3 linked regions of the Homo sapiens genome follow. The protein of the gene in region 1 purifies or fractionates together with the protein of each later gene. This does not show direct contact. Each region holds a gene or a part of one and is shown in the gene's direction. Other genes may lie near its edges.

The links.
Region 2: the proteins of FKBP15 (region 1) and MIER1 fractionate together in Homo sapiens (co-fractionation; one large-scale study listed by BioGRID). This does not show direct contact.
Region 3: the proteins of FKBP15 (region 1) and CHERP fractionate together in Homo sapiens (co-fractionation; one large-scale study listed by BioGRID). This does not show direct contact.

The regions. Positions count from the first base shown.
Region 1 is NC_000009.12:113,183,183-113,186,833, reverse strand, and holds part of FKBP15 (FK506-binding protein 15), read left to right. Parts: intron 1-470; coding exon 471-585; intron 586-2,029; coding exon 2,030-2,139; intron 2,140-2,434; coding exon 2,435-2,542; intron 2,543-2,988; coding exon 2,989-3,083; intron 3,084-3,651. UniProt on the Homo sapiens protein: May be involved in the cytoskeletal organization of neuronal growth cones. Seems to be inactive as a PPIase. Involved in the transport of early endosomes at the level of transition between microfilament-based and microtubule-based movement.
Region 2 is NC_000001.11:66,931,438-66,935,088, forward strand, and holds part of MIER1 (mesoderm induction early response protein 1), read left to right. Parts: intron 1-3,651. UniProt on the Homo sapiens protein: Transcriptional repressor regulating the expression of a number of genes including SP1 target genes. Probably functions through recruitment of HDAC1 a histone deacetylase involved in chromatin silencing.
Region 3 is NC_000019.10:16,532,315-16,535,965, reverse strand, and holds part of CHERP (calcium homeostasis endoplasmic reticulum protein), read left to right. Parts: intron 1-329; coding exon 330-514; intron 515-2,817; coding exon 2,818-2,955; intron 2,956-3,216; coding exon 3,217-3,368; intron 3,369-3,651. UniProt on the Homo sapiens protein: Involved in calcium homeostasis, growth and proliferation.

The DNA.
Region 1 (3,651 bases):
TCAAAGGAACATGAGAGCTCTTGGTCTCGTGGATTAGCTTCAGAATCTAGCAGGGGAGAGGCATCCTTGGAAATTGGCAGATTTGGTTTGGAATCTCAGTGAGCACTTCTTCTTTAAACTCAATGGAAGCTAAGCAGAGTTTATTAATCTAAAAACTTCTTAGACAATAGGCCTGATAATGGGGAATGAATCCCTGCTTAATTATCTCACCAGATGACTGGGTAGTGACCTAAGATACACTTTCTTCAGTTTCTGGGTAGGATTTTAGTGACTGGTTTCCCCTGGGATACATAGATAACTCTCCTGCTGCAGTCCTTACCAACTGCCAAACCCAGATCTCACCCATCTCTAGCTTCAGTAAGTTTGAGTCTCCTCCCAGCTCATCCACTTTATTCCACCAAAGAAAAATGTGAACAAAAAAGAAAGACATGAATGTTTTATCAACCAGTGGTAACTCGTCAGTTTCTCAGCCCTATGCAGGTATGCAAGCCTACGCTTATCCCCAGGCATCTGCCGTCACCTCCCAGCTGCAGCCCGTTCGGCCTTTGTACCCAGCACCGCTCTCTCAGCCTCCCCATTTCCAAGGTAGGGAGTAATTCCCTCAGTTTCTCATCTTCCGCTCTTGCTGTGCTTTCCCTCTTCTTGCTCCTCCTTCATTTTCACACCAACAGCTCTCTACTCATTGTTTCTTCTCTTTTTTAACAGCTTTGTTGAGATATAATATGTATTCCACACATTCATTCATTTTAAATGTGCAATTCAAAAGTGTTTTAGTAAATTTGCAGAGTTGTGCATTCATCACTACAATCCTATTTTAGAACATTTCCGTCATCCCCCAATGTTTCCTTGTGTCCACATTCTGTGTTTTTTTCCTTGGATTTTCTCCCCTGGCCCTTTTAATTCCTCTGTTAGAGTAGCTAGAGTTTAGAGAAAATAGTAAAAGAGCAAAACATTGGAGGAAATTGGGAGAAAGTTGAATACTATAGGTGTTTAGTATCTCTAATGAAAGCTACTCTGTTAACATTTTTAAATTATGAAAATAAGAGACTTTTATAAAAAAGTCAAGCAGTACAAAAGGGTGTAAAGTGAAGTTACTGTCCTTCCCCTCCATAAACCCCCTGACCTTGGGAAACTGTTGTTAACAGTTACTTGGGTAACTTTTCAGATATTTTGTATGCATGTACAAATGTGAGTATCTAATGTAAAAAAATCAAACCAAGATAAAGTGTAAACTGCTATGATGGAATCCTGCCTTGTTCTGCTATTAGTCTTCTGTTTAGTAATCAGCTTTGGTATTAGGACAGTGGTAGGAAGAAGCCAGTATGTCCTGCAACATAATTTGTGGTTCTGGACTGGTCAGGATTTCCTGAATGCAGCCTTTATCTGGAAGCTCTGCCCTTCTCCATCTGGGATACGCTTTTTCATCCATCAAAACTGTCATCTCCCTCTGTGAAGCCTTCCCTGACTATTCTCTGTCCCTCTTTCCTCTCTTCCCACAAACACAACTGTGTACGCGTGTCACCAAAGAGTTAATCGTGCTTTTCTCTGTGCTACTTTTATACCTAGTATATGGTCCATTGTTTTGCACTTAATACACTCTCTTGTAATGATTTGTTTACATGTCAGTCTCCCAGCCAGACTGAGAGCTCACCAAGGGCAGAAGCCGTGTTTTGTTTACTGCTGTATTCCTGGTACCTGGTACAATGCTTGGCATACAGTTGGATGAACGGGAAAGTAATCTGAGCTGCCGGTGCTGTGGCAGTGCAAAGTGGGCATATTTGTGCCCTTGGACCAGATGTAGCCCTTGATGCATTTTGCAGGAACACGGCTTAGTTATTGTTTACTTTGAAGCCCTTTTGCCTCTACTCTCTCCCATATATCTTCTCCTGACAGGGTGAAGTCACCTATAGCATTTCCTAGTGTATGGAAGTATTAATTTCTTTCTTTACTGGAAGAGCTACTAGCTTTTCTTCATACAGTTTCCTCTGCTCCAGTTTCATAAGTTTCTTTTTGGCTTGTATCTGTTTAGGATCAGGTGATATGGCTTCATTTCTCATGACTGAAGCCCGGCAACATAACACTGAAATTCGAATGGCAGTCAGCAAAGTGGCTGATAAAATGGATCATCTCATGACTAAGGTGACTGAGTCAGAGTTGGGGTGATGTTGAAAGTGGGGATGTAAACAGGGAGCAGCCAGAACTGTAGGTAAACTCTTCTTTGATTTCCTGCATTGGTAGTAGTGAGAGGTTATTTCCCTACAAGGATAGTTATAATTATGTTGGGATCCAGTTAGTAGGAGAAAACTCTAACTTAACAGTTAGAGATTGTCCCAGGAACTCATTAACCCCCTTAACAACAGGGTCAAATCTTGGGTAAATTGTATTTCTTCATTTTATAATTTCTCACAAGGTCTTTCTGGTATCCCTTTTGTAGGTTGAAGAGTTACAGAAACATAGTGCTGGCAATTCCATGCTTATTCCTAGCATGTCAGTTACAATGGAAACAAGCATGATTATGAGCAACATCCAGCGAATCATTCAGGTGAGGGTGATTAAGAACATACCACTCAGGCTGAAGGTCTTACCCATCCTCTCTTCTCAGAGGTACTACTCTTTAACACCTCCACCCCAGAAATAGCCTGTGATAAACGCTACACTGGGTTAGACAATTCTAGAAAATCCATTATGGCTTAATTCTGTCCAAGTGACTTATCACTATATATTCTGAAGGAAACATTGCTTTTTTGACCATACTTCAGAATTTCACTTCTTTTTTTAGCCATTTATTCACTCAATCCATTGGACCTAGTGATTTGTATCCATCAGGTGTAATCTGATGTGTTGTTTTAACATACATGTGGACATAAGTTCTAGTGTTTTGTCTCAAAACATGTTAACAATGTCACCTGTCAGTTCAAGTTGATTCTCTTCTATCTGGCACTTTTCTCCCAAGACACTTAAATTGTACATCATATATTTTGAAATTAGGAAAATGAAAGATTGAAGCAAGAGATCCTTGAAAAGAGCAATCGGATAGAAGAACAGAATGACAAGATTAGTGAACTAATTGAACGAAATCAGAGGTAATGACAGGTACGGGGCCTGGCTAGGATGGACAAAAGGGTTTATTATGTATATGCCCAGCTTAAGTACACGTATTTGTTTAGGGCAGTACGTATGTATTTCTGCCATTTCTGTTTCCTGCCTGTCATGTGAATTATTGCCTGTTTTCTGAGAGGCATTGCAGTAGAAGGAGCTTAGTAGGCTGTGATGTAGGGCAGACCTGTGTTTGATTCCTGCTCTGACCCTCATTCATTCTGTGGCTCTGGGCATGTTATTTATTCCTGCTGGCCCTAGTTTCTTTATCTTTAAAACTGGTATTATTACTTACAGAACTCTGGTGTCAACTCTTCTCTCTTCTGTGTGGGCTAACTCTATTTTATCCATCAGAACTCAGCCAAAACTTCACTGATTCCCATATAAGACCTAAGGATTTTGTACTTTTTGTAGATACTTCTGAAGATTTGGAGGGGTGGGTGGGGAGGATGAGTGGAACACATCACAACACAGCATTTCACTTAAAAAAAATCATTCTCCCATATTTCTCTTCTCCACTGTCTCTTGTCTCCCACATGACAGAGCTGGGGGAGT
Region 2 (3,651 bases), on another chromosome or scaffold:
AGCCACTGTAAATTTTGATTGATAAGGCATTTCTCTTGTTTGAATTGCCATTTTCATGGTTTCACAGGCACCCCAAAACAGATTTAGGAAGGAGGGTGAGATTTTGCTGTAGCAGACAGGACTGTTTGCTGCGAGTATTCTTTTTAAAACATTCAATATCTCTAATTTACAACTAAATTTAGATCTTAGATTTATTTTCATTTCTTTTGCTCTTGGTGGTTAAAGAATTGTATTTCCAGGCACATGAATTGGAGAACGTAGTACTTTCTGTTTCCCCAAAATGTGACTGCGTTTGTTCCAGTAGACTGAGAATCGGTACCTGGATTTTAGTCCTGGTGAGGTTCTTATTCTTAAGTGTTTGTTTCCTTCATGTTTAAGGAGTTGTGTGTAGCTGGATTTATACATTTTGTCAGTTAGTGTCTTCAGTGGACCCCTTTCAGTGAATATCGGGTAAGCAGCAATGTGCTACATAGGTAATGTGGTTTCTTCTTTCATGGTGTTGCTCAGGATGGTTTGAGCTTTGAGGTGTGTAGTCATATACTAAGGCAAGATATTACTGAAGGAAAATAGCTTATACAGAGAAATTTAAGTTAAAAAACTTAAATTTAAAATTTCTGTGTTTTTAAAAAATAAATTTTATTGCCGAGGGAACTAAAAAATCTAATATGTAAAAGAAATTATGTTAACTTTTTTGTTTTAAAAATTAAAGATGGTTGCGTTATTGTAAGATAAAGGAAAAAAATATTTTGATTCACTAATCATTTCCTAATATTTTCTAATGTATGTTTTAGTTTTCTTAAATATTTTATCAGTTGGAGAATGGAATGTTTTGTGGGAACGCATGGATTGTTCAACTGCAAGAAGGAAAGAACTGGAATTTTGTTTTTATTTGGTTTTTAGTGTTTATTTAATGACCTGGTATCTTTAAACAATTTATCTTCTATATTCTTCAGTTACTTGTAGATAGTTTCATGTATAGTGAATTGGGGAAGAGTTAGAGGAACTTTCGTGATCTGTGTCCTACAAAAAAATCTAAGACAGGTGAAGAAGTGAAAAGTACAATTGATTTATAGTTTTCCTGGCCTCAATACTTGAATAATTATGACGATTTTTGAGACCAGTGGTTTTAAACAATTAGACAAAGGAGAAATGCTTGGTTGGCTTTTACTTTGAGCTCTCAGTAGATTCATTCTTTATGAAGCCAATATAAAAGCATGTGATTAAATAATCCAGATGCTGAATTATTGTGCTTTTGATCAAATAAATCTGAGGATTTAAGGATAGCTTGTGAAGTAACAGTAAGTGCAAAGCAACAGTATATATCTATTTGTTAAATCTGAGGGGGAAAACAGGTTATTGAAGAAGTATGTCTCCAGAGAAAAATGTAGGTATTATGCTTCTGGGCTTTTAAAAAAAAAAATTGATGCTTCCTACAAGAGCATGACCCTGACCATGTTTTTCCAGAAAAATATTTAATTCTTGAATAGAAAGTGCTTTAGATGAGAATAGGATATACTAATTTTTTATATTTGATCTGATTATCTTAGTCCATAATAGGAAGTATATATTGGTTCTTCAGTTGTGATAACATTAAAGCCGTATTTAATGTACTTAGAATAAATAGCATATGCTCCCTTGCTTAATACTTTTTGGCAATATTTCTCATTGCTTATTATCCCTTAAAATTATTTACCAACCTTCTAAAAGGACGCTCTCCTAGTCACACTTGAAGGAAATTACAGGATAGTTGCAGTTTTACTAACTGCAAAAATAAGAGGAAAATGAGAGAAAAAATGAGAGGAAGAAATAGTTAATCCTTTGGGTTTTATAAGGAATGTACTAGGGACCTTTGGGAACGAACAATTTGTCTTGTATTTTAGCGTTTGTAAACACGTAAGGGACTTTCTTCTCAAGGAAAAAAATCCATGGACAATTCAAGACCTGTCTTTTCACCTAGGCCACATTTCTGTGATATAAAGAGAAAATTAATGGATTTGCTTCTTTCTATTTAAGTATTTTAGTACTTTCAAAGAGGGTATATAATCTGTTTATTCACTTTCACACCTATCCATTTCTCTTTAAAATGGACTCCTTGCTTAGTATTTTTTGAGTGTATTTGGATTTTTTTAACGAAGGATTATGTTAAATGTTACTTATGAAAACATTAATTTCTACTCTAAGCAAAATGTGTTTCACTGCAGTGAATTTAAGCTTCAAATAATTCTCGACACTAATAATGAATTTTTTTTCATGTTTATACTTCAGAGCTATTAAGATTTTAAAAGTAGTCAAGATCACCAGTGCGTGAGAGTCCTAAAAATCTTAATTCATTGGCAGTTAAGAGTTAGGGTACTTTAATAGGTGGGAAAGGTTTGGTGGGAGAAACAAGTGAATTACTTTAAGATAATTCTGGTAAGTGAGACTAACCAGTTTTCTAAATAATTCAGAAATAAAACACTGCCATTGAAGCTTAAGCATGTCTTTATGAAAAGTAATCAGCTATCTAGAAATGCCTGCCTGGCTTGATGTTCATTCAAAATTCATTGCAGTGATTAAATTGTTCAAGTACCAGTCATTGCTTGGGGCTTGTTCTGTTTGTCTTATTCTGTGGCTTAGAACAATAACTTATTATGTAGGTATGAAATTCATGAAGTAGCACCCCAAAAAATTGTTTTTGCAAATTGAGATTTTTTTAACAGTCCTAGATTTAAAAAAATAAATTTAAACATATCCCATGCATTTAGCTGCATACTCCTTAGTAGTGTTAGGTTTCTAGAGCAATTTATAATAAAAGTAAAGTTAGGTCTTGAAGAAATCTAAATCTTTTGATCATAGAGAAAATGAAAGTGAGCAGAGAGTTTACGTAGTTTGTCCTAGGTCGTGCAATTCATCTATGGCACAGTTTAGACTGGAACCCAGCCTTCTGTATTCCTAGATTCCTAGTGCTTATTTTCTTTTTCTTTCTTTCTTTTTTTTTTTTTTTTGAGACAGGGTCTCTCTCTGTTGCCCAGGCTGGAGTGCAGTGGCGCAAATCATAGCTCACTACAACCTCAAACTCCTGGGCTCAGGTGATCAATCCTTCCCTCAGAGCCTCTCAAGTAGCTGGGACTATAGGCATGTGCCATCATGCCCGGCTTTTTTTTTTTTTTGTGGAGACAGGGTCTCGATATGTTGATCAGACTGGTCTCGAGCTTCTGGCCTTAAGTGATCCTCCTGTCTTGTGCTGGGATTATAGGCGTGTGCCACTGTTCCCAGTCCTTATTTTCTATGATATCATTTTACTTCTGAATTATTAATACTGTAGTAAATTGCTAATTTTAATTTCAGTACATTCTTAACCTTTTTATACCCCAGAATTCCTGAGAGTAATAACAAAGTTAAGTAACTTAATTTTATTGGAGGAGAGGGATGGTGAGCCAGCCCTTGGCACGGTAACCATCTTTCACCCTAAAGTAGGACCCCTCTTTCCAGGCTTCTATCCCCATCTCCATTGCTGTGAGAATCTCTGACTTAGAGTCTACATAACTAAGTAGATGACGGCAATACTTAAAAGAAATGGTGGTAGAATTGTTTTGAGGGGAAAAATTTGTTCAGACGGTAATACTCATTGCAAATAAGCTTTTGATTGCCTGGAATAAAAAAATCTAGTAA
Region 3 (3,651 bases), on another chromosome or scaffold:
GAGGAGGTGGGCAGGCAAGCTTAGCTTGCACCGGAAGGACACTGCGCAAGGACTGGATGGTGCTGGCGAGAGAGCGGCCAGGGGACTTCCTAGGTTCTCCGAGGAGGGGACGGCCCGAAGATGGAATGCTGAGGCTGGGATCCTGTGAGAGGGAGGGCAGGACCCGAGACTAGGAGGAGCTGGTTTGCGTGGGCATGAGGCTATGAACAGGCCCTCGTGGATGGTGAGTCCCTGGGGAGGGGGAGGCCCCTGTGGCTGAGAGGTGGCCAAGGGGACACCTAGACCCCCATCTGCATTCTCATGGGGCACCCCTCCTCCTCTCCCTCCAGTCATCTGCAAGCAGCAGACCCCGGAGCTGGAGCCAGCCGCCACCATGCCACCCCTGCCACAGCCCCCGCTGGCCCCCGCCGCGCCCATCCCGCCGGCCCAGGGCGCGCCATCCATGGACGAGCTCATCCAGCAGAGCCAGTGGAACCTCCAGCAGCAGGAGCAGCACTTGCTGGCGCTCAGACAGGTATGGGCCCGCCGCCTCCTCGGCCAGACACCAGCAGCTCCCCTGTGCCTCTGTTTTTGCGTCTGCTCATCAGAATGAATAACAGGTGTCAGTGAGGACAGGGCCCCCCCTGCCACCCAGGGCTCGGTGCATGTCAGCCACTGTCACCCCCAGCCCTGATGCCAGACACAGAGGCTGCTTCTCATCTCAGTGAAGCCACTGGACGTGCGTGCACCCATCACCCTGGGGTGGACCCCCCTGAGTGGGACTGTGGGGCACGTATGCACCTTGAAGCTCCCTAATGGCTGTGGCCAGGCAGCCTCTGGTGCCTACCATTGGCCCCACCACACAGTAGCTAGGTCACCTGGAGCTGTTGGTTGGGGAAGGACCCTTTTTTTTTTTTAAGTCTTGTTCTGTCGCCCAGGCTGGAGTGCAGAGGCGTGATCTCAGCTCACTGCAGCCCCTACCTCCCGAGTTCAAACGATTCTCCTGCCTCAGCCTCTGGAGTAGCTGAGATTACAGGCATGCACCACCACACCCGGCTAATTTTTCTATTTGTAGTAGAGATGGAGTTTCACCAGGTTGGCCAGGCTGGTCTCAAATTCCTGACCTCAGGTGATCCACCTGGCCAGAAGGACCCTTTTGTCCTTCCTGGTCCAACAGTTTGATAACTTTCGCCAAATAGAATACAGGTGCATTGGCTGGGTGTGGTGGCTCACACCTGTAATCCCAGCACTTTGGGAGGCTGAGATGGGCAGATCATGAGGTCAGGAGTTCGAGGCTAGCCTGGTCAACATGATGAAACCCTGTCTCTATGAAAAATACAAAAATTAGCTGGGCGTGGTGGTGCACGCCTGTAATCCCAGCTACTTGGGAGGCTGAGGCAGGAGAATTGCTTCAACCTGGGAGGAAAAGGTTGCATGAGCTGAGATTGCACCACTGCACTCCAGCCTGGGTGACTGAGCAAGACTCAGTCTCAGAAAAAATAAATAAATAAAATACTACAAGTGCATTGCCAGAAAAATGAGAGGAATAGAATACCAAACCTCCAAAACACCAACCCCACGCTCAGTACTAGGTTCAGGGCATAAAATCACACTGTCATATTGCTCTCAGAAAATTCCAGCTGGGCACAGTGGCTCAGCCTATAATCCCAGCACTCTGGGAGGCCAAGGCAGGCGGATCACAGGGTCAGGAGTTTGAGACCAGCATGGCCAATATGGTGAAACCCTGTCTCTAGTAAAAAATACAAAAATTAGCTGGGTGCAGTGACAGGTGTCTGTAGTCCCAGCTACGCGGGAGACTGAGGCAGAATTGCTTGAACCCGGGAAGTGGCGGTTGCAGTGAGCTGAGATTATGCCATTGCACTTCAGCCTGGGCGACAGAGCGAGATTCCATCTCAAAAAAAAAAAAAAGAAAAGAAAAGAAAGTTCCAGAATGCTCACCCTCAGCTTCTGTTCATCATGGAGTGGGAGGCCTGCCTTGACCAGCCGTAACTGACCGCTGGTCCGCATGGCAGCTCTGTTTTTACCAGTCGCACTTTAACCGGTGTTTCCTCTTGAGGAATGAGATTGCCCCCTTCTTGCTTCACTAGAGGCCATGGGTGTATCCTCTTCTTCTATTGCCTGTCGTTCACACCATGCCTCATTTGTCTTTTTTTTTCTTTTCTTTTCTTTTTGTTGTTGTTGTTGTTGTTGTTTTGTTGTTGTTAGAGACAAGGTCTTGCTGTGTCACTCAGGCTGGAGTGCAGTGGTACAGTCACAGCTCACTGTTTAACTTTGAACTCCTGGGTTCCAGCAATCCTTCCGCCTCAGCCTCCCAAGTAGTTGGGAACACAGGCACACACTACCATGCTCAACTAATTTGTATTTTATTTTTTGTAGAGATGAGGTTTCGCTACGTTGCCCAGGTGGTCTGGAGCTCCTGGGCTCAAGCGATCCTCCCGCCTCAGCCTCCCAAAGTGCTGGGATTACAGGCATGAGCCACCGCGCCCCGCCTTTGTTTTTTGTTGAGTTGGTTTGCAGAGGTTGTTTGTTCCTCTGGGCTGCAGTGTTTTCCTTGGTTACCTGGAGGGCAGGTGTTGTCTCCTGGTATGTCCTGTCAGTGCCCTGCCCACTCCAGGAGGGACTGTCACAGATTCACGGCAGGCATGAGAGACAGAATCTCCTCCTGCTGGGGACAAGCAAGGGAGCTGATGGCCAGAGCAGCCCAGAGTCCGGGCATCGCCACCATGTCCCCACCCCGCCCCTGCTGAGCCAGGCCGGAGGGCTCAGGCTGCGGGTCCCTCCTCATGTGTTCTCGACCCCACCGACCCCCGCCCGCAGGAGCAAGTGACAGCGGCCGTGGCCCACGCGGTGGAGCAGCAGATGCAGAAGCTTCTGGAGGAGACCCAGCTAGACATGAACGAGTTTGACAACCTCCTGCAGCCCATCATCGACACGTGCACCAAGGACGCCATCTCGGTGAGGGGCCAGCACTTCCCAGAGCCCAGCTTTCCCTTGGTCCCTCCCTGAGGCAGGGCCTGTCGTAGCCAATCTGGGCTAAGGGCTGTTACAATGGGTGCCCTTCCCTCCCGCCTGGAGCTCCTGAGGCTGTGGGACCCTGTGCCCCCCACGCTCATGGTGTGTCCTTCCCTGAGCTGATGGTGACGCGCTCTCAGGGATGCAGTGGGTGCCTGGGGGAGCCGCGGCCCTGCTCACTCGTCATTGGCTCGGTTGTTGCAGGCCGGGAAGAACTGGATGTTCAGCAATGCCAAGTCCCCGCCGCACTGTGAGCTGATGGCCGGCCACCTCCGGAACCGCATCACGGCTGATGGGGCACACTTCGAGCTGCGGCTGCACCTCATCTACCTGATCAATGACGTGCTGCACCACTGGTGAGCGCCGCCACCCCGTGCCCAGAGCGCCACTTCCTCGCGCTCCTCCTCAACCCTCCTGGGTGGCCGCTTGCTCCGGTCGGTAGCTTGGCTTGGCCTGTCCCGAGACTAGGGGGCACTTGTCCGGGGACCCCGGGTGGGGGGTCTCTGTGAGCCACCAGGCTTCTGTCTCCAGGACTGCGAGGTCTAGGTGTCCTGTGCACCTTCGCTGCATGCCCTGTCCTCTCCCCTAGACCCCGGCCTCACCTGTCACATTGCTGTCTCCTGGGGGCCACTGTCCCCT